Regions from separate parts of the Homo sapiens genome. Here region 2 is linked to region 1. Evidence: fine-mapped expression QTL. A gene starts in region 1. The other region holds a variant in brackets. All regions are shown on one strand. Distances are between the middles of the regions.

What was found. PIP is the estimated chance that this variant, and not a neighbour inherited with it, causes the effect.
Region 2: its variant is fine-mapped to the expression of CYCS in whole blood (TOPMed, PIP 0.99).

What each region holds. Positions count from the first base shown.
Region 1 is chr7:25,119,799-25,130,554 of GRCh38, forward strand. CYCS (cytochrome c, somatic) reads right to left here and starts at 5,462. Exons shown (of 3, transcript NM_018947.6): 1 at 5,402-5,462; 2 at 4,153-4,329; 3 at 1-4,051. The coding sequence starts at 4,321. The coding sequence ends at 3,903. It also overlaps a transcript of SPMIP4 not described here. RefSeq lists enhancers at 4,387-4,931, 4,932-5,475, 5,623-5,872.
Region 2 is chr7:25,189,265-25,200,020 of GRCh38, forward strand. All of the region lies in intron 1 of LOC124901603 (a long non-coding RNA gene), which reads left to right. LOC105375191 (a long non-coding RNA gene) reads left to right here. Exons shown (of 3, transcript XR_927102.3): 3 at 4,498-4,715. Among named protein-coding and RNA genes, the nearest start is that of SPMIP4, 14 kb to the left of the region's middle. The variant G/A (reference allele first, on the strand shown) is at 5,241.

The sequences.
Region 1 (10,756 bases):
ACTGTCCTTGGTAAGATCTCCTTCTTGACAGCCATGTGGATTCTATCACACCCTTTATAATTTACAGCAATCTTCAGTGGTTAAAGCAAAACTGTACATCTATAAAGGAATTCAAGAGAAGTGCAGGAAAAGGATGACAAAAGGTAAATCCCTAGCTACCACCAGAATGTTATCTATCTAAAACTGCCAACTTACGAATAGGTAAAACTTATGGTAAAATTATAAAGGTGAGCACAACAGGAACTGGAATCTATTCTGAAGGGCAATATAATGTACTTCCAAGAATTCTAGATTTTTTTTTTTTTTTGGAGACAGTTTCACTCGTCACCCAGGCTTGAGTGCAGTGGCACAATCTTGGCTCACTGCAACCTCCACCTCCCAAGTTCAAGTGATTCTTGTGCCTCAGCCTCCCAAGTAGCTGAGATTACAGGTGCCCACCACCACACCTGGCTAATTTTTATGTTTTTTGTAGAGACAGGGTTTCGCCATGTTGACCAGGCTGGTCTCAAACGCCTGACCTCAAGTGATCTGCCTGCCTTGGCCTCCCAAAGTGCTGGGATTACAGGCATGAGCGACCATGCCCGGCTAATTCTAGATTTAATAGAGTAAAGAGAAAGTACTTTTGTTACAGACCACTGGTTCTAGTCCTAGACCCAGAATGTCAATACAGTAGCCACTAGCCACTTGTGCCTATGTAAATTTAAAATAAAATACTTTCTAGTCACACTAGCTATATTTCAAGGGCTTAACAGCCACATGTGGTTAGTGGCTACCACACTGGACAGCAAAAGTCTACAAAATATCCATCGTCACAGAAAGTTCTATTAGACAGCACTGTTCTAGACAAAATAAGCATGTAGGTGGCATCTGAATACCCCTTAAATACATCTGGCCCTTGTTTTTGATTCTACCAACCTAGCCACTTACAGCGAAGCACTAGAAATGAAAACATGTGGTTTATAGTGCTCTTTTTTTCCCCTATTTCCTTATTTCTGAAGGTATATATCCCTGATAGAAATGTCCTTTTTAAAAAATTACATAATTGGCCAGGCGTGGTGGCTCACGCCTGTAATCCCAGCACTTTGGGAGGCCGAGGCAGGTAGATCACCTGACGTCGGGAGTTCAAGACCAGCCTGTCCAGCATGGAGAAACCCTGTCTCTACTAAAAACACAAAATAAGCTGGGCATGGTGGCGCATGCTTGTAATCCCAGCTACTTGAGAGGCTGAGTCAGGAGAATCGCTTGAACCTGGAAGGCGGAGGTTGCGGTGAGCAGCGATCACGCCATTGCACTCCAGCCTGGGCAACAAGAGTGAAATTATCTCAAAAAAATAAAAATAAAAAAGTTACAGAATCACATTTTAAACCACCAGAAGTGCTTGGGTATAACTGACCTAGAACATGGCAGTTACTCATCTGTGCCAACACAGACCTTAATATAGGAGGCATAGAAATGAGAAAAATTGGCCGGACGTGGTGGCTCACACCTGTAATCCTAGAACTTTGGGAGGCCAAGGTGGGTGGATCACGAGGTCAGGAGTCCAAGACCAGTCTGGCCAACATGGTGAAACACCATCTCCACTAAAAATACAAAAATTAGCCAGGCGTGGTGGCGGGTGCCTGTAATCCCAGCTACTCAGGAGGCTGAGGCAGGAGAATCACTTGCAACTGGAAGGCGGAGGTTGCAGTGAGATTGCACCACTGTACTCAGCCTGGGCGAAAAGGGCGAAACTCCGTCTCAGAAAAAATAAATGAGAAAAATTTTAAACCTGAAAAAAAATTAAACCTAAGTTACTACTGGGCTGATTACTTCTGGGTTAAATAATAAGATTTCTGAATTTGAAAACCAGGCAGGGCCTGGTGGCTCACGCCTGTAATCCCAGCACTTTGGGGAGCCAAGGCAAGTGGACGGATTGCTTGAGCTCAGGAGTTTGAGACCAGCCTGGGACCACATGGCAAAACTCCATCTCTACAAAAAAATTAGCTGGGCATGGTGGCGAACACCTGTAGTCCCAGCTACTTGGGAAGCTGAAGTGAGAGAATCGCTTGAGCCTGGGAAATAGAGGTTGCAGCCAGCCGAGATCGCACCACTGCACTCCAGCCTTGGCGACACAGCGTGACCATGTCTCAAAAAACAAACTAAACGCCACAACTAGCCAAGATGGAAGGTTGAACACATTTCTGTATCTATCTTAATATGTTTCCTGTATCATTTCCAGGATGCCAAAAAAAAAAAAAATCAACTCTCTAGCCTTCACTTCAGGTCTTTCTCATTAGTCCAGAATTGTCCCCTTGTAAGCTACTTGCTACACTGTCCCTGAATACCACTAACTTTATACAGTCACCAAGTCCTCTGCTACAAGGCCTTTCAAAGTCTGAAATCTTTAAAGGATTTCCAGGATGCATTTTTAAATTCCCCACCAGAACTCAGACTAGGACTTCAAATATGAATTACAGCAAGCTTTCCACATTTCTATAAATAAAAATAAGACTCATATGTTATAAATTGCTTTCAGGCCTTAAAACACCTATCTAATCGTCCCTATCACCTTTGAGACCATGGATTCACATCTTCTCAGTCTTCTCACTGTCCCACAAAGATACAGTTCTCAGCTGCACCAGCATAGATTTATTTTCTCATTATTCTTTATGACTTACCTTGTGCTCACCATCTCCATAAAATCTCCAAGGACTACTCTAAATGTGTATGGCACAGACTATGCATGAAATAATTCAGTATGTAATTATACACTGTTACACATCACAAAACTATGACCACAGGCATTCCTCTGTCCATGTCTGGCATAAATGCTGCAGTTCTCAATCTGAGCAAAGAAACTAAGAGTCAATTAGTGAAGTGTTATTCTAGTTGAGGCAGTCCTAGAAAACCAAGTAAACAATCTAGCACCATGACTGGTTAACACTGCTGCACTGACATTTAGGGCTGCTGCACTGACATTTAGGGCTCCTGCACTTTTTAATCATTAAAATTTGTGCATCAGTCATGAAATCAAGCACAGTCAAAAAGTCATGATCTGTGGTTTTCTTTTTAATTATCTTTAGTCTTGTGATCACACATAATTTTAAAATTTGTGTATATCTCCGTTACTTTAATCCTTTTAAGTTGGCAAAAGCACCATTCCCAATCAAATACACAGTTCTACAGTTTTGTTTCTGAATGGCTGTTTAAAGACAATCCTAAATTATAACTTAGTTTGACTTAGATTGTAAAGAATTCAAGAGTGAAGTTTAACTTGCTACTATTTTAAAAGCATGTGACCTTATAGATCTGTAAGATGTGAGAGGTGTTGAATAATCTTTAATATTACACATAAACCACACTAAAATGCCTTTCAATAAGTAAAAGAAACCATTTTAAATACAGGGAATTATAATTAGATTGGCATAGTTAAGGCCAAAACTATAGACATTGCTACCTTATTTATCTTCAACCCTTGCCTTTAAGAGGCAAATGAACATGAACACAAAACACAGGTGAATCTTGCTTGGTTCTAAGACAGTGAAGCAATTTCCCCAGTATTTAAATATATTCACATAACCAGTTATATAAATCTAAATATAAAACCAATCTCCAGTAAGTTTTAAGATGGCACTCACCATCTTTGTGAAAAGTTGAACATTACTAACGAAGTCTAATCATATCTTTAAAAGGGGTAAACAGTGATACCATTTACTGAATTGGAGTTACTATTAAAATTCAAAAACTGAACATATTCATTTAACCACAAGCCAGTCTTAGTTTTAAATCAGGACTGCCCAACAAAATATTCTGTCAGTCATTCATGATCTGAATTCTGGTGTATGAGATCTATTAAAGGATGGTACACATAAAAAAGTCATGAGACATTTCTGTTTTGTAATAAATAAGGCAGTGGCCAATTATTACTCATTAGTAGCTTTTTTGAGATAAGCTATTAAGTCTGCCCTTTCTTCCTTCTTCTTAATGCCGACAAAGATCATTTTTGTTCCAGGGATGTACTTCTTGGGATTCTCCAAATACTCCATCAGTGTATCCTCTCCCCAGATGATGCCTAAACAAGAAAGAATGCATCGGTTATTTCACACTCCTGATAGTTTGCCACATGTTATATTCCTGCATTTTGTGTTGTTTTATTTAACAAGTGACTCTTACCTTTGTTCTTATTGGCGGCTGTGTAAGAGTATCCAGGGGCCTGACCTGTCTTCCGCCCAAAGAGACCATGGAGATTTGGCCCAGTCTTGTGCTTGCCTCCCTTTTCAACGGTGTGGCACTGGGAACACTTCATAATAAAAATCTTCTTGCCTTTCTCAACATCACCCATATTTAATTCTAAAAACGAAAGCTTCAACTTAGTAAATTTTTCCTCAGGTAACAAATACAGTGTAAATGAATGACCACTCTAGCCACTTAATTACCAATCCATTGCTAATTTATGTCATTAAATACCAGAATGAATCTTGTTTTGCTTTAATACTCTTTATACCAAATATTCTTTAATACCAAAAACATTTTTAGGAGTACCTCCTCAAAAACGTATTTTTGTGTGTATACGTGAAGGAACGTTAAAGCCCAAGCAAAGAGGGAACCTAATTCAAACTCCAGTTTCAGAAGAGACAATCATGGTCACGAAGTCACAGATCTGAAGCTCAAGGGCGAACACATTAAGCCAAAATCACCACAACCGCAACTTTTAAAAAGACCTAACCATTTAATCTTACTACAATGTAAAGCCACCTCTCCCTGAGGATAACGCAAAGCACACAAATGTTTAAAAAGCGGTCCTGGCTGTTTCTATCTGCCCAGGTCACAGGAGTAGCTTGACACTCGAACTTGTGAATGGGAGCTCAGGGGCAGGCTGCACGGTCCCCCGGGGACATCCCAACTCCCCTACCTGTGATCTCCTGGGGCGACCACGAGGTCACCCGTCCAGGTCGGTTTCAAGGTGATTGATGAAACTCCTTCTAGGATGTCAGAACGACTGACGGAAGAAACATGTGCCCACGAAAAGAACTGGCCCCTTATTAGAAGAGCAACAGCTTTTGCCCTCTGAAGAAGAACGTGAAGCTCTAAGCTTCGGCTTTCCAGGAGGGAAGTCTTGCCTATCATTTCCATAGCCCTTCAGCAACCACTACGGAAGAGGCCGCCTCCTCCTCGGATCTGTATCCAAGCCGCCTCCAGTCCCTGACCGAGACCATACCTGTCCCTAGTTAGGGCTCCGCCGCACCTCAAGCCGTTACTCGCCCAGCTCGGTCTGACCACAGTCCAGGGTCTTCACTCCCCGCCCTCCCACCCAGCGCGGGCTCCACTCGAATGCTCCCCGCTTGGGTTTCGGTCGCTCGCAAGTGCGCGCCTCCCACAGCTCTGCCTCTAACCAGGTGCGGCCTCCGCGACCCGCTCTCACCTCTTTTTAGTCGCTGGCACAACGAACACTCCCGCTCCGAAGCCGGACGTCCCCACTCTCTAAGTCCAAGGACACGCCGGTCCGCGCTTAAGTACCGGTGTAAGTGCAACCAAACTCGCTCCGCGCTCCCGCGCCCTGACGTGCGGCCGAGCTGGCGGCTACGCAGTAACGTCGCCGCACCTCATTGGCTCCAGTCCCAATGCCTGCGCCAAGGACCTGCGCGCGCATGCTGGCGAGCATGTTAGGGTGTACGGCGTGCGTGCCCTTCTTCTCGAGGCTTTTCCCGGCCGTTACGACAGGCCTTTGGTCGTACGACAACGAGGTGGTGTCGGGAGAGGTGACGTCACTCGCGGGCCTCTGTGCGCTTGCGTGTGCTGGAGGAGCGGGGAGGGTGGGGCGGAGTCGCTTGGTTGGTGCGTTGCCCTGCTAAAGTATCAGTTCTTGGGCGTGGTGATGTAATGAGCTTTGAGCAGGGCGTTTTGCCGGTCCAGGAAAAGACGCCCTAATTTTGGCGCACCTAGAGGTCTCCTAGCTACCATCTTGTCAGCAGGCGACCTTTACCCAGACTCTGTCCTACTACCACGGCTGGCGCCAACAGCATCCTAGAGGGACAGCCTGGAACCAGGAGTTACACGAGTTGGGCACCAGCTCGTGACCTTGTTCTAGTTCCACCTATACTCTGTTACTTTCAGTCACATTCCAGCTCTCCGCTTGATGGACGCCCCAAGACTGAGGAAGGTGCTGCATTTGCGGCAGAGACAGGATTATCCCTCTGGAACTGAAAAATAAAATTAAGAGGATGCAATGATAACATTTATGTACCTTTTAAAATTTTTATGAGTACGAAGTAGGTAAATATATATATATACTTAAGAGGTACATGAGATATTTTGATACAGGCATACAATGTATAATAATCACATCAGGGTAAACGGTCTATCCATCACCTCAAGCATTTATCCTTTTTTTCTGTTACAAGCAATCCAATTATACTTTTAGTTTGTTTAATGTACAATAAATTATTGTTGAGTGTAGTCACCCTGTTGTATTACTAGACCTTATTCATTCTTCTTCAGTGGCGCCATTTAATGTCTCAGCCCCCCAAGTAGCTGGGACTACGGGAGCAAACCACCACGCCCAGCTAATTTTTGTATTTTTAGTAGAGATGGGGTTTCACTATTTGGTCAGGCTGGTCTCGAACTCCTGACCTCAGGTGATTCACCCGCATCGGCCTCCCAAAGTGCTGGGATTACAGGTGTGAGCCACCACGCCCAGGGCAAATAATATTTTATAACCCATTGTTTTAAACTGATGACAACATAACATTGATTGCATAAACAAAAATCAAAGAGAAAACTAAGAAAAACTCTGCACTTTAACTTCACTCTCCCCACTTTTAAAACTTTTTCTTGTTTCTATTTATATATTATTATACTATGTCTTGAAAAGTTGTTATAGCTATTATTTTTGATAAGTTAGGTTAATCTCTAAGTCTTTCTACTCAAGATATGAACAGTTTACACACAATTACAGTATTATAATATTGTGTGTTTTTCTGTGTACTTACTATTAGTAGTGAGTTTTGTACCTTCAGGTGGTTTCTTATTGCTTACGAATGTCCTTTTCTTTCAGACTGAGGAACTCCCTTTAGCATTTCTTGTAGGACAGGTCTGGTGTTGATGAAATCCCTCAGCTTCTGTTTGCCTGGGAAAGTCTTTATTTCTCCCTCACATCTGAAGGATATTTTCACTGGATGTACTATTCTAGGATAAAAGTTTTTTCCCTCAGCACTTTAAATATGTAATGCCACTCCCTCCCGGCCTGTAAAGTTCCACTGATAAGTTTGCTGCCAGACTTATTAGAACTCCTTTTTATGTTATTTGTTTCTTTTCTCTTGCTTGCTTTTAGGATTCTTTCTTTATCCTGGATCTTTGGGAGTTTGATTATTAAATGTTTTGGGGTGTCTTCGTTGGGTTAAATCTGCTTGGTGTTTTATAACCTTCTTGTACTTGAATATTGATATCTTTCTCTAGGTTTGGGAAGTTCTCTGTCATTATCTCGCTGAATAAACTTTCTACCCTGATCTCTCTCTCTAGCTCCTCTTTATGGCCAGTAACTCTTAGATTTGCCCTTTGAAGCCAGTTTCTAGATCTTATAGGTGTACCTCATTCATTTTTATTCTTTTTTCTTTTGTCTCTTCTGAGTGTGTATTTTCAAATAGCCCATCTTCAAGCTCACTAATTCTTCCTTCTGTTTGATCAATTCTGCCTGTAAGGGACTGCATTTTTTAGTACGTTAATTGGATTTTTCAGCTTCAGAATTTCTGCTAGATTCTTTTTAATTGTTTTAATCTCTGTTAAATTTATCTTGTAGAATTCTGAATTTCTTCTCTGTGTTATCTTGAATTTTGTTGAGCTTCCTCAACACAGCTATTTTGAATTCTCTGTTTGAAAAGTCACATATCTCTTTCTCTCTGGAATTGGTCACTTGTGCCTTCATTAGTTTGTTTGGTGAGGTCGTGTTTACCAGGGTGGTCTTGATGCTTGTGGATTTTTGTTGGTGTCTGGGCACTGAAGAGTTAGGTATTTATTATTGTCTTCACAGTCTGGGCTTTTTATTTTTTTGTATCCACCCTTCTTGGGATGGCTTTCCAAGTATTTGAAGGGACTTGGGTGTTGTGATCTAAGTCTTTGGTCACTGCAGCTATATCTGCATTAGGGGCCATCCGAAGCTCAGTAAAACTATAGCTTTTGCAGACTTGTAGGGGTATGACATTTGTGGTCTTGGGTAAGATCCAGGAGAATTACCTGGATTACCAGGCAGAGACTCTGTTCTCTTATCTTACTTTCACCCAAACAAATGGAGTCTCTGCACTGAGCTGTCTGGAGCTAGGGGAGAGGTGACACAAGCACCCTTGTGGCTGCCTCCACTGTGACTGTGCTAGGAGAGACCTGATGCCAACATAGCACTGGGTCTGGTCCAAGGCTTGCAGTGACCACTGTCTAGCTACAGTAGCTTATGTTTCCTCAAGGCCTGCATTCAGAAGCTGGTGAATTCAGCCAGCCTTGTGTCCTTCCTATCAGGGCAACAAGTTCTCTCCATCTTCAAGTAGGTCCAGAGATGCTGTCTGGAAGCCAGGGCTTGGGGTCGGGAACCTTAGGAATCTACCTGGTACTCTATTCCACTGTGGCTGACCTGGCACCCAAACCACAAGATAAAGTTATTCTCACTCTTCCCTCCTCTTTCCTCAAGCATCAAAGTCCTTCCCCATGACCACCATTGCACTAGCCCATGGCTAGTACTTCCTGGCTATGCCAACATTCACTCAAGGCACAGGGGCTCTTCAGTCAGCTTGTGATAAATGCTATTAGTCCCGAGTTTCTCCTTTCAGGGCAGTGGGGTCCTCTTTGGCCCAGGGCATGTCCAGAAATGCTGTCTAGGAGCCAAGGCATGGAATCAGGGACTCCAGGAGCCTGCTTGGTGCCCTACTCCCCAGTAGCTGAGCTGGTATCCAAGTCGCAAGACAAAGTCTCCTTACTTTTCCCTCTCCTTTCCTCAAATAGGAGTCTCTCCCCTGAAGCCACCACACCTGAAGCCAGCATGGCTGGCTACTACTACTGATTATTCAAGCCCAAAGTCTCTTTAGTCAGCAAGTGATGAATCTTGCCAGGCCTGGGCTCTTCCCTTTAAGGCAACAGGTTCCGTTCTGGCCCAGGGTGTCTCTAGAAATTTCATGTGGGGGCTAGGGCATGAAATGGGGGCCTCCCCCTAGTGCACAGTTCTACCGTGGCTGAGCTGGTATTCAAGTTGTAAGACAATGTCTTCTTTACTCTCCCCTCTCTTCTCCTCAAGTGGTGGGAAGGAGTCTCTCCCAGTACTGTCAGCAGCAGTGCCTGTGGCTTGGAGAAGGGTGATGCAAGCATTCCCTTGGCCTCCCTGGCTAGCATCTCACTAGGTCATGTACATTCTAAGCCCAATGGCTCCAAGCCCAGCAACAGAACTTGCCCAAGAATTGTAGTTCTTTTGGCCTATTCTGCCTTTCAAGTTTATTTGGGACCCCCCCAGAGCACTTTAGCCCACGGTAGCTGGGCCTGCTAGAACTCAGGTTCTGGCTGCTTGGATGAATGACTCCTCTCTAGCTAGGGCTCATCTACATGCTCCCTCTGGGCACTGGCTGATTTCTGCCCAGTGTTGTTTTTCACTGTGACAGGGCAGCACTGAGTTCCAATGCAAGGCCCTGCAATCACTGCCCTGTCCCTTCCGCAAGCACACTGATTCTCTATGCCATGTGGCCACTGCTGGGGGATGTGGAAGGGGTGGTGTAGGCAATCCAAGACTGCCTTTTTTACCCTCTTCAGTGCCTCTTTCCTTAATATGATGTTAAAACCAGGTACTGTGATTGCTCACATGATTTTTGGTTCTTATGAAGGTTCTTTTTTGGGTGGATAGTTGTTCAATTTGTTGTTCCTATGTCGGGGGCAATTCCTGGAGGCTTCCATTTGGCCATCTTGCTCCACCTCTCCACCAAAATGACTTTTTGGAGAGGAGTTATTAGACTACCTCTGGAAGTGCTGTAACAGCCCAATGGGTTCTTCTTGCCTGCTGCCTAGAAAAGCCAATGCATTGAGAGCAACAGTTTTTGGAGCAGAGAAAGAGTTTAATTATCAGAGGGCCAGCCAAGCAGAAGGATGGGAGATAATTTTCAAATCTGCCTCCCTAAGAATACGGAAGCTAGGGTTTTTCAAGGATAGTTGGTGGCTGGGTGTGGTGGCTCATGCCTGTAATCCCAACACTTTGGGAGGCCGAGGCGGGTGGATCACTTGATGTCAGGAGTATGAGACCAGCCTGGCCAACATGGTGAAACCCCGTCTCTACTAAAAATACAAAAAATTAGCCCAGTGTGGTGGTGCATGCCTGTAATCCCAGCTACTTGGGAGGCTGAGGCAGGAGAATCACTTGAACCTGGGAGGTGGAGGTTGCAGTGAGCTGAGATCATGCCACTGCACTGCGCTCCAACCTGGGCGACAGAGAAAGACTCCGCATCTCAAAAAAACAAAAAAGAAAGAAAAGAAAAAAGAAAAGCAAGCTGGGGACAGTGGCTGGTTATCACTTCTTTTTTTTTTTTTTTTTGAGACGGAGTTTCGCTCTTGTTGCCCAAGCTGTAGTACAATTGCGCGATCTCGGCTCACTGCAACCTCTGCCTCCCAGGTTCAAGAGATTCTCCTGCCTCAGCCTCTCAAGTAGCTGGGATTACAGGTGTGTGCCACCATGCCCGGCTAATTTTTTGTATTTCTAGTAGAAACAGGGTTTCACCATGTTAGCCAGACTGGTCTTGAACTCCTGACCTCAGATGTT
Region 2 (10,756 bases), 69 kb after region 1:
GGTGTCCTCAAGGTTGCATATTTCTTTCAGCTCTTGTCATTCTGGTTGAAGGGAGACCATGTGATGTTCTAGAGACGGCTGCATGCAAGCATTTAAAACCTTCGAGACAATACAGTGCACAAGGGAGACTATTCTTATGACTATTGGGAGGATAAAACAAAGAGTTTGCAGTTTGCTCCTTACCCAAGGTCCCCATAAGTCAAACATCCTAAAATCAAATAGAGCAAAGAATGAGCTAGATAAAGAGTCTACTCACTTAACAAGTAGTCTCTTTGTTAATCCCCTACCACTGAATTTCTATAATTTTCACCTGATGTATTTTTCCATAGGCCACAAGTGCCAGCAGTGGCACAGATACTTCTTGTTCTGCCAATTCTATCATAACTTACACAAGAGAATTTAAAGTTTCTGTGTCCTTACCTTTATAATTTGCTACAGAGTCTATCACGAGGGATACATTTCTAATCATTGCTTTTTTTACTTTAAACCATGGAAAAAGGGCCTGACAAATGATGCCCTTCTAGAAGAGTGAAGACCTCCTGGCAGTGTACTTTTTAACCCATGATGTGGGTTAAAAGGAATGAACCAATGTTTTGTTCATAACTGATTACGAGGCAATGTATGTACCATTAAAGTTTTGTACCTACATTGGGTCTTCATCTTTTATCTATCAAAGTATAAGTTTATCCATGTATAAGGCTGGCTGTAAACTTCTTCACAAATAAAAGTATACCCCACAAGTGCACATAACAGACTGACCCCCTAACCACTTCTATTGTTTATAGAAGCATAAGCAGGAAAAAATATTCAAAGATTAGAGTTTCATGATAATAGAAGTCTTAATCTGTGAACATGGAAAAAGCTGTTCACATCAAGATGCCATCTTCTTCTGGGGAGAAACTTTCCTGGCTAGTTTTACCTTAAGGATTTCAATGGGTGTAGAGTTCCAAGAGTGATGAGGGACCTTTCTCAGTTGTGAGATTATGAACCCAAAGTTCAAGGTCCTGAAATTTTGTAATAGTGTGGATGGCAAGGACAGTTTTTCTTTGACGTTCTCAGAAGATCCAAACCATAAAAAGTTTTCTTTACCTGGTGAAACTACACTGTAGCATAATAATCTGCTGTGATAACATCAGCCCTCTGGCATGGGAAAGCTTTTTTTTTCTTTTTTTGGAAACAGAGTCTTGCTGTGTCACCCAGGCTGGAGTGCAATGGTACGATCTCGGCTCACTGCAACCTCTGCCTCCTAGGTTCAAGTGATTCTCCTGCCTCATCCTTCTGAGTAGCTGGGATTACAGGCACCCGCCACTATGGCTGGCTAACTTTTTGTATTTTTAGTAGAGGCAGTATTTCGCCATTTTGGCCAGGCTGGTCTCGAACTCCTGACCTCAGGCGATCCACCTGCCTCAGCCTCCCAAAGTGCTGGGATTACAGGCATGAGCCACCGTGCCTGGCCAGGAAAGCTTTTATACAATCAGAAAACATGCACTGAAAATAACAGTTGCGTGAAATCCCTTTACGAAATGTTCAAATGGCCCACCAGGTGACCAAATGTACCTGAAGCTTTAATTGTTTTCCCATGAATATAGAGCCAAACATTGGTTATAAACTATTTTAGTAATTTGTAAGTTACTACATGAATGTATTCACTTTGGATTATTTTATCTTTTCCATGATGAGTCATGGAATGCAGAACTTTTAATAATAAAAACTTTAAGGACTCAAGAAGGACAAGGTGGTCATCCTGGTTCTCCATGAGTCCATGCTTATTAACATTAGATGTATATCCTCTCGAATACCAGTAGTTTTTCTAAATTAGGTGCATAGCACTGACAACTGATGAGTTATCAAAGGTAATTTGACTTAGACTGTGAAGTTTATTCAAATTGTATATCTAAACAATTTCAGTATCAGCTGGTTTAACATGAGAATCTGACTTTTCTTGGCATTTAATTTTTTTTTGTTCTACTTGGGTTAGTAGCTTTATACAAGGAAATTTGGTTATTTCTGTGGTTTACAGTAACTTAACATAATAACCATAATTATAATTGATAGCATATACTTACACATTAGAATTTTAGAAATCCCATACAATTTTGGAATATATATTAGTATTATTTACAAAAACATAACCTAAAGAAGATTGAACATCATTTTGGCAATCCCATATACCTAAACATGTCAAATAATCTCGTTTACTTCTTTTCCAGATGTTTTCAAGGGCCCTCTGATCAATTCAAAAAGCTAGGCATCAGGAAAGAAAATTTTAAAACTGAAGTTTGATTTTGGAATTCCAGATTACCATAAACTATTTATTTTGCCAAAATGATAACTCAGAAATTTTAAAGAAGCGAAAACCTTTTATAATCTTTTACAAAAAAAAATTCTTCTGTTCTTACACACCTTGCATGTAAAACTGTTTCTAGTAGTCTTAATTACATGTTATAATGGTGACTCTCAGCAATTTTAATTTTAATGTAAAACCTGGTAAGTTATGTTCTGATAAGGTTTGACTATTTCCAGCATTAGCCAGGGGTGCGGCCACCTCCACATGTCCTCAGGCCTTACCTGGTGGAAAGCAGACAAGTTAAACAACTTTCAAAAGCTAAAGGAGCAGTTTATGACCTTAAAGCATTTAGCAAACCTGAAATTTGAGCATAACTTAGGCCACATGTTTACATTTTGAAGACATTTGTATTTTACCAATAATCTTTAAGACTGTCTTTATTTCCCAAAGATTACACAAGTCACATGAACTAAATAAAAGGCATTACATTTTTCACTTTTTTGACAAAATATTTGATTTAAGCTCTTATTATTATTAAACCAATTAATTAAAGCTCTTTTGTATCAATTAAAACTTTACAGAGGAGATAAACAGTGACTTTTACTATTTATTTAACCAGTTTGTACAGAGAGAAAGAGGCCAGTGACTGGCTGGTAAGAAATTCTTACCCTTTTGCCAGCTTGCCACGTTTCTGGGTTCTCTCTCCCTGACCGGCCCTAGTTGACCCCGCTTGACTGTATGCAAACAAACACATTGCCATGAATTAGGAATATTCACAAATAGTTTACAAATTTTGGAGAAATTAGGCAGAGAGAGAGAGAAATGTGACTCAAATTCTATTTATTAGAGTATACTCAACACACTTAAAGTATCAGGGAGCCTAGAATCCAAAAAACTAGTTTTGGATAGAAAGCTGGTGTGCTCCATTAACTCCTGTGGCCCAACAAAGGCAGTGTAGAAATTCCAGATAAATGGAACAAATAATGATTTGCTAGAAATGCATAGGAAACAAAATAAGTATTCACAGAACCAAGTAAAAGCCTTCCACTAGGAACTAAAAAAAAAAAATCATGGTTTTATATATATGCATACACATATACATACACACAAAGCTAGAGGAGAATAAACAGCAAATGAATGAAAACTAGAAGCAGAAACAAAAAACAGGAGACCAACCCTAAATTTTCCTACTCAATATACCTTGGAGGCTACAGTGTTACTGATCCCCAAAACCCACATATTACATATTTTATTCCTGATACACAATTTAATATCCTTAAGTTCATCAATATTATTATAAATTCTGTGCAATTAAGAAATTCACTTTAGGCACATGACCAGTAAGTACTCTAGCACTATCCAAGCAAAACAGTAAACAGAGTGAAGCAATGCAAGCATGTATGTGAAATTTGGCTCCACACTAAACCCAGCTTCATACTTAACTATATTTAAAAAAGAATTGCCAAACTGCTGATTCATTTCTTTACAATACTTCTTATTTTACTTTAATCAAGACTTGGCTTTAACAATGAAAATGTTAATTAGCCAAATGTCTCCATTTCTCTATCAGGTTTTAAAGAATATTTTATTATTTAAATTTTTTTCATCTTTCTCCCCTACTTAATTATTCCTTACTACATTGTTTCATAAATAACCTTTTCAAATCTGTAATTTAAGCTAACTTTCAGATAACTTCTGAATTAGACAAAATTATTCTTTTTTTCACTAATAACATAACCCTTTCTAGCATATTTTGTATACAGAAGTATGTGTTAACTGGAATTTTTATTCTTAGTAACCTAAAACTTTAGTGAAACCCTAAAAAGCAAGAAATCCTGAACTATCAGATATGGACATTTACAGATAAAAACAACTCCACAACCTTTTTCCAGAGTGTTTCTGGGAGGGATGGTCCCCCTGGGTCTTCTCCAGGACCAAGGCCCCAGAGTTCTCTTGTTCTTTTTCAGTGACCCAGGAAAACGAAGCCCCCTCCTGTATTGACAGCTGGGAATTGTGGAGTCTGCCATCCCTCCTCTTGAGATGGGGTCTCCACTAGCACAGAGGCTGCTTTGGAGTCAATAGATCATTTTTTCCCCAAACCAAACACCCTCTTTGCTTGGCTGGTGTTGTTCCTAAGGCAGCTTCACTGGTGAGAGTGAGTGAGGATTGAAGTAGAATAGAGCAGTCACCAGATGTCTTGCTTCCTACAGAAAACTGGATATCTTTGTGGTCCCTGAATGATCCCAGGAGGCTGAACCTATAAAGACGTCTGGTCCCTGACCCCTTCTGCCTCCAGGTGCCCAGAACAGCCTATCGTGGGCCTTCACCCTTGGCAGGTGGATGCCGTTGTCTCAGCTAAGGTTGAGAACTACCAACCTGGGTAATTTGAGCAAAATATTGAGGACCAAATAAATATGGCTGGGAGAAATCTCATCTTCATCCATCTCCTTTATTCCAAAAATAAATTTTGAGAAGCTTCCAAAATCATATGTAATATGGTAAGATGTTTGAACTTTTATGGGATCTGGGAGGGGGAAACCTTGGAAAGAGGGGAGGGCTCTCAGAGAGGGTAAACTTTGAACTGAGGATTGCAGGATAAGGAACATTCCCTCTGACCTGAGTGAGAATGGAGGAAATAGCATTCCTGGCAGAGGGAAAAGCCAGGCAAAGCCCTCAGGGCAGGAATGAGAAGTGGAGGACTTCTCTGAGAATGAGCTTCATATGGCCTGGGACAGTGGGTCCTGGAGAGTCAGGAGGGCTGAGGTTGAGAGGACACCAGGGCCAGGCCGTGTGGAGCTTGAAAGCCCCCCGCACCAAATGGAGATTTCATTCTGACTGTGTTCAGCATGGTTTTCAGCAATGAGGAGGTGATCTGACTGATGTTTGCAAACATTGCTCTGGCTTCCAGTTGCCGACTAGGAAGTAGAAAATCAGAATGGGTCTCACTCCTCTG[G/A]TAACAGTAAAACAACAGATAATCTACAAGATCATACCTTTCCCTGAACCCATCAGAAGCTGAAGTCACAGGGCAAACATTCAGCCTGAGGTTGAAGGAAGGCAGGAGCCTCTGAGAAGAGGAGGTGTGAACATGGCTGTCTGTGGCCAAGCGTGAGAAGGAGACAGCCCTGCCACACAGGTGGGGAAGACTGGCTCAGTCGATGCCTTTAAAGAATCACTGAAGGCTGTGTTTGAGTCAGCATGAAAGTGTGGACCTCCTGGGATCTTTGGACAAGCAGAGTTCACACTCTCTTGCAGGTGCTTCTCTATAGAAGGCCACTGAGCCCCACTCACACATGAATGTATTGGGCACAGAGTGGGAGACCAGATAGAGCCTCCCACAACAGTGCCAGCTTGGGGCAGGGGAGCAGCTGCCACTGCAGGAAATGCACAAAGCTCTTCCAGACTCTTCTTCCGGAACAAACAAAAGCCATACCTTTTGGGGAAAGGGCAGAAAACCCTGCTGACCTCAGGCTGCAGGAAAATCCCACTGAGGTTGGTGGTGTGAAAGGAAAATAAATCTTGGTGCCCCAGAATCACTAAGCTAAAAGGAAAAGTCAAGCTGGGAACTGCTTAGGGCAAACCTGCCTCCCATTCTGTTCAAAGTCACCCCTCTGCTCACTGACATGAATGCATATCTGATTGCCTTCTTTGGAGAGGCTAACCATAAACTCAAAAGAATGCAACCATTTGTCTCTTATATACCTATGACCTGGAAGGCCCCTCCCTGCTTCGAGTTGTCCCATCTTCACCTTGAATTGACCCACCTTTCCAGACTGAACCAATGTACCTCTTACACATATTGACTGATGTCTCAAGTCTCCCTAAAATGTGTAAAACCAAGGGGTGTCCCTACCACCTTGGGCACCTGTCATCAGAACCTCCTGAGGCTGTGTCATGGGTGCTTGTCTGCAACCTTGGCAAAATAAACTTTCTAAATTAACTGAGACCTGTCTCAGATATTTGGAGTTCATATTGGGAAGGAAAAGAAAAATGCTCATGGCAATTGCAGGCAGGAAATTGTCCCAGTCCATTAGAGTGCCCCTTGTCCTGGGGAAGAAAGGATGGATAAAAAAGCCTCATTCTCTGGGCCCTGGAACACTGGGCCTGCCTCACACTGAGTCTGGAACAAAACGACAGACAGTGGCCCTGACCCCACACCAGGTCAACAAGCACCAAGTAACAAGTAATAGCAGTCTACAGCAAGGGACAGCCAAAAAATGTGGATGGGCACACGGGGAAGGTGTAAATCTGAGGGTGGAGCATGAATATTGTGAGCCCAGCCCTTACCCAGGGACGCAGTAGCACTAGGGGGATTTGAAGCCAGTGGTGCATTGAACTAAAATGGCAACAGCAAAACCCAGACCCAGTTGAACTCATCACTAGATCAACTCAACCCCTCATACCAGCAGGTAGTAGAAGGAAAGGCATGCCCATTTCCGGGCATAAATACTTCTTGCTTCAGTCTCTACTGTCTTACACATGTCAAACATTCAATCAAAGATCACAGGACACACAAGAGCAACTGAAAACAACCCACTGTCAGGGGAAAAATCAATCAACAGAAACAGACTCAGGTGGACCACATGCATGACTAGATGGGGAATGTCAACAGAGAGATGGAAGCTGTAAGGAAGAGTCTAATGGGAATGCCAGAAGAAAAAAAAGTGATGGTAGCAGAGATGAAGTATGCATTTGACAGGACTATCAGTAGACTCAACCCTGTAAGAATTAAAGAAAGAGGAAAGAAACACAAAAGGTGGCTTGGCAGTTAAGGACAGGTTTATTTTAGAGAAAACGAACCTGAGAGGGGCTTTTGGCTGAGTTAGGGTAGAGGCACATTTTTTTACAGACTAAGAGTGTTTAAGGATTTAGGGTAAGAGAGTTTGTTGGAGGCTTGGACACTTTTGTGTTTTTTTGTTGTGTTTATTTGGGAGGGAGAGTTGTGTGTTTGTTTCCACACTTTTTTTTTTTTTTTTTTTTTTTTGCAGCTGCAGGCATACCCCCTGAGTTTGCATTTAGCTTCCCTATCTTAGTGCACCCGAAGGGAAAGGAATGTGCTTATTAAGGCCCACTGTTTTACTGGGCCTATTGTATGAGAGTGAAGTTTGGCAGTTACCCAAGAGACTTTCCCCTACTTTCCTCTGTGCCGGGGCTGTGTTATCTGTGTTTTACTGTTTGCTCTTTCTGGCTGATTGTAGTTAGAAGAGAAATGATTTCCTTGAAATGCATGAGGCTAGAAAGGGAGCTGGGATTTAAAGTGACGGTGTTTGTCTGAGATGATGGTGCTCCTGCTCTGTCAAACACAACTGAAGAACAAAGCAGTGAACGTGAAAGTTGATTGAAATTACCTAAACTGTGACCGAGTGAGACCCTGTCTCAAAACAATAAATAAACAAATAACCTAAACTGAGACACAAAGAAAAGAGTGAAAACAAAACAAAACAAAAAAATAGGGCACCAAAGCTGTGGGACAACATAAACAGTTTGAAGAGATGATGGCCAATAGTTTTTTATTTTTTTTTTGGTGACAGAGTTTTGCGCTTGTCGCCTAGGCTGGAGTGTAATGGCATGACCTCTGCTCACTGCATCACTGTAACCTCCTTCTCCCGGGTTCAAGTGATTCTCCTGCCTCAGCCTCCTGAGCCACCACACCTGGCTAATTTTTGTATTTTTAGTAGAGACAGGGTTTCCCCATGTTGACCAGGCTGGTTTTGAACTCCTGGCCTCAAGTGATCCCCCTGCCTCGGCCTCCCAAAGTGCTGGGATTGTAAGTGTGAGCTACCGTGCCCGGCCACCAAGTCAGCTCAATTTCTTTACTTATCTTGTCATGGATCTGTATTTATTACTGGACAGAGACCACAATTTGAATAGCAGTGATCTGAGGACAGTGTTTGAGAGCTATGGGGGAAATTCTTTTGACAATACTCAGCTTGGATAATTTTTTTGCTCTCTTGAAGTTAAAGCTGTCTGTAAAATTCTTCTCCTAATAACAATAATGTATAGAAAAAACATACATATGTATATGTATACATATAAAGGATGATTTTAAGCTGTTGTGGATCACCAGTATTTGATCTTTGTGTGAATTGATGTGATGGCAAATGATGACAACCATGGTTGAACCGAGGCTGTGAAGTGCCAGGCAGTTGGTGTTTACTCTTTCAAGACTGGTTTCCAGACTGAGAGACACAGAACTCTGTATTAACCTCAGGGACACTTCAGTGTATTCATCCAAGAGTTTGTCATCTATGTCACAAACTCCATGTTTAACTATCATTCTGGCTGAAAAGAGAGAGAAGAAAGTCTCTGCATGGAGTCAGGATAGACAAGTTCATGCTGCAGGAACATGTAGTCCCAAATCTAAGTGGCCTAAAATCCCAGTGGGTTGTCTCCCCTTGTTCTCTTTAAACCAAGACAGCAAGGGGCTGTGTATTGTCATATTGTGTCATTCAGGGCCCAGGTTGGTGGGGAGTCCACTGTCTCCTAACTCTGTCTTCTCAATATGAGGCTTCAGGGTTTGTATCAGCAGAAGAAGGGAGCATGGGTTATTAAGCATCGGTTCTTAACCGCTTTGACTCATAAGTAATTCACATCAGTTTCTTCATAATTCAGCAGCCAAAGGAAATTAGGGGGCCATGCATAAAATTAACAAGCTGGGAAGTGTAATGTTCCTGTGTCCTGGGAATAGAGGCAATTGGAGGTGTTCGTGAGTTCTAGAAATGTCAGTCAGTATTCTTTTACTGCTCTGCCTACCTCTAAGTTTTATACTCATCCTGTTATTCTTACACTGCCACCAGGGAGATTTTTCTAAAATGCGAATCTGTCATGAATCTTGCTTGAAATCCACCATGGATCCCTGTTTACAGAATGAAAGCAGAATTCATAACTTAAAAAAATTCCTTCAGAATCAGATCTGTCTTCATCAGCCCTGTCCCACCCACAGCCCACTCTCCAGTTCTATTGAACTACCTACTTGCAATTTCCTGACAGCCTTTTTCTTGTCTGCATACCTTTCCACCTGCTATTCATTCATACCAAGTTTCATTCTCTTTGGTAAACCTTATGTATCAGTCTGTGTTCAGCAAGGAGACAGAAACCACACCCATTATTTGAACGGGACAAATTTAATAAGTAAAAGCTTGTTTACTAGAGGAAAGTGCTTAACTACTCAGAGGGACCAAAGAGGACTTTAAGAAGCTATAACTTGTAGGCTGAGGTAGAGTAAACAATAAAGAAACTTAGGACCAGAAGGGTCTCCCTGCCTCAACGAAGGCTGAGATGCAAACTTCTTGGAAGACAGCATGGCTTCCAAGCCTTCAGATGGAGAAGAAACTTGCCAGGGTGCAGGCGGCGGTAGTCCCTAGAAGTAGTCCGCTCTTGTTGGAGGGTGTGAGCTGAGCAGAACTGGTCTGTAGATGTGGCCTGCCATTGCTGGTGGATGTGGCTGCTGGTGGAGGGAGTGGCCTGAGGGCAGAGCTGGAACTGAACATGAGGCCACTGGACTCCCATGCTGAATAATAATAATAATAATAGTAATAATAAAAACATCAGAAGACAAGAACCTGAAACTGAGGTGTCTTCCTGTTATCTTTGCCTTTTAAGGTCACTCCAGTGCTGTCTTTTGGTGAAGCTTAAAAGACAGGAGAAACGTTTGCAGAGTCTCACAAAGCAGGGTGAAGAAGAGTTGATTTGGACCTGAGAGCCAATAAACAGATAACTCACACACCATAATAATAATGATAATTTATTTAATGTATATTATGTGCCTGGTGCTGTGATACAATTATATGTCTGTAAATGTGTGTAAGTGTATGTAGTTTTAAATTCTATAACACACCTGTGAGATAGATATTATTACCATGTGACATGTGAGAAAAATGGTCCAGGTTTGTCTGGGCATCAAAGCTGTGCTCTTGTCCACTCTGCTATCCTGATTTTCCTTTCCTGTCTTTGGAAAGTTAAATATTCTCTCTTGTCTTCCCCCTTGTGACATGAGCAGGTCTGTTTATTTATTTATTTATTTGAGTTGGAGTCTTGCTCTGTCTTCCAGACTACAGTGCAGTGATGTGTTCTCAGCTCACTGCAACTCTGCCTCCTGGGTCCAAGTGATTCTTCTGCCTCAGCCTCCTGAGTAGCTGGGATTACAGGCGCTCACCATCACGCCCCGCTAATTTTTGTATTTTTAGTAGAGATGGGGTTTCACCATGTTAGCCAGGCTGGTCTCAAGCTCCTGACCTCAGGTGATCCGCCCACCTCGGCCTCCCACAATACTGGGATTACAGGTGTGAGCCACCACTCCTGGCTGCAGGCCAGTTTATATGGAGTTTATCCAGGAGTACCTAGAAAGCAGGAACTGTGTTTTTCTATTCATTTCGGGTTTCAAATGCCTATGATTAGTGCTTGGTACCTAACAGGCACTTAAATGTCCACCAAAAGAACAATTGGTTGGATGTTTTATCTTTGCAGTTAATG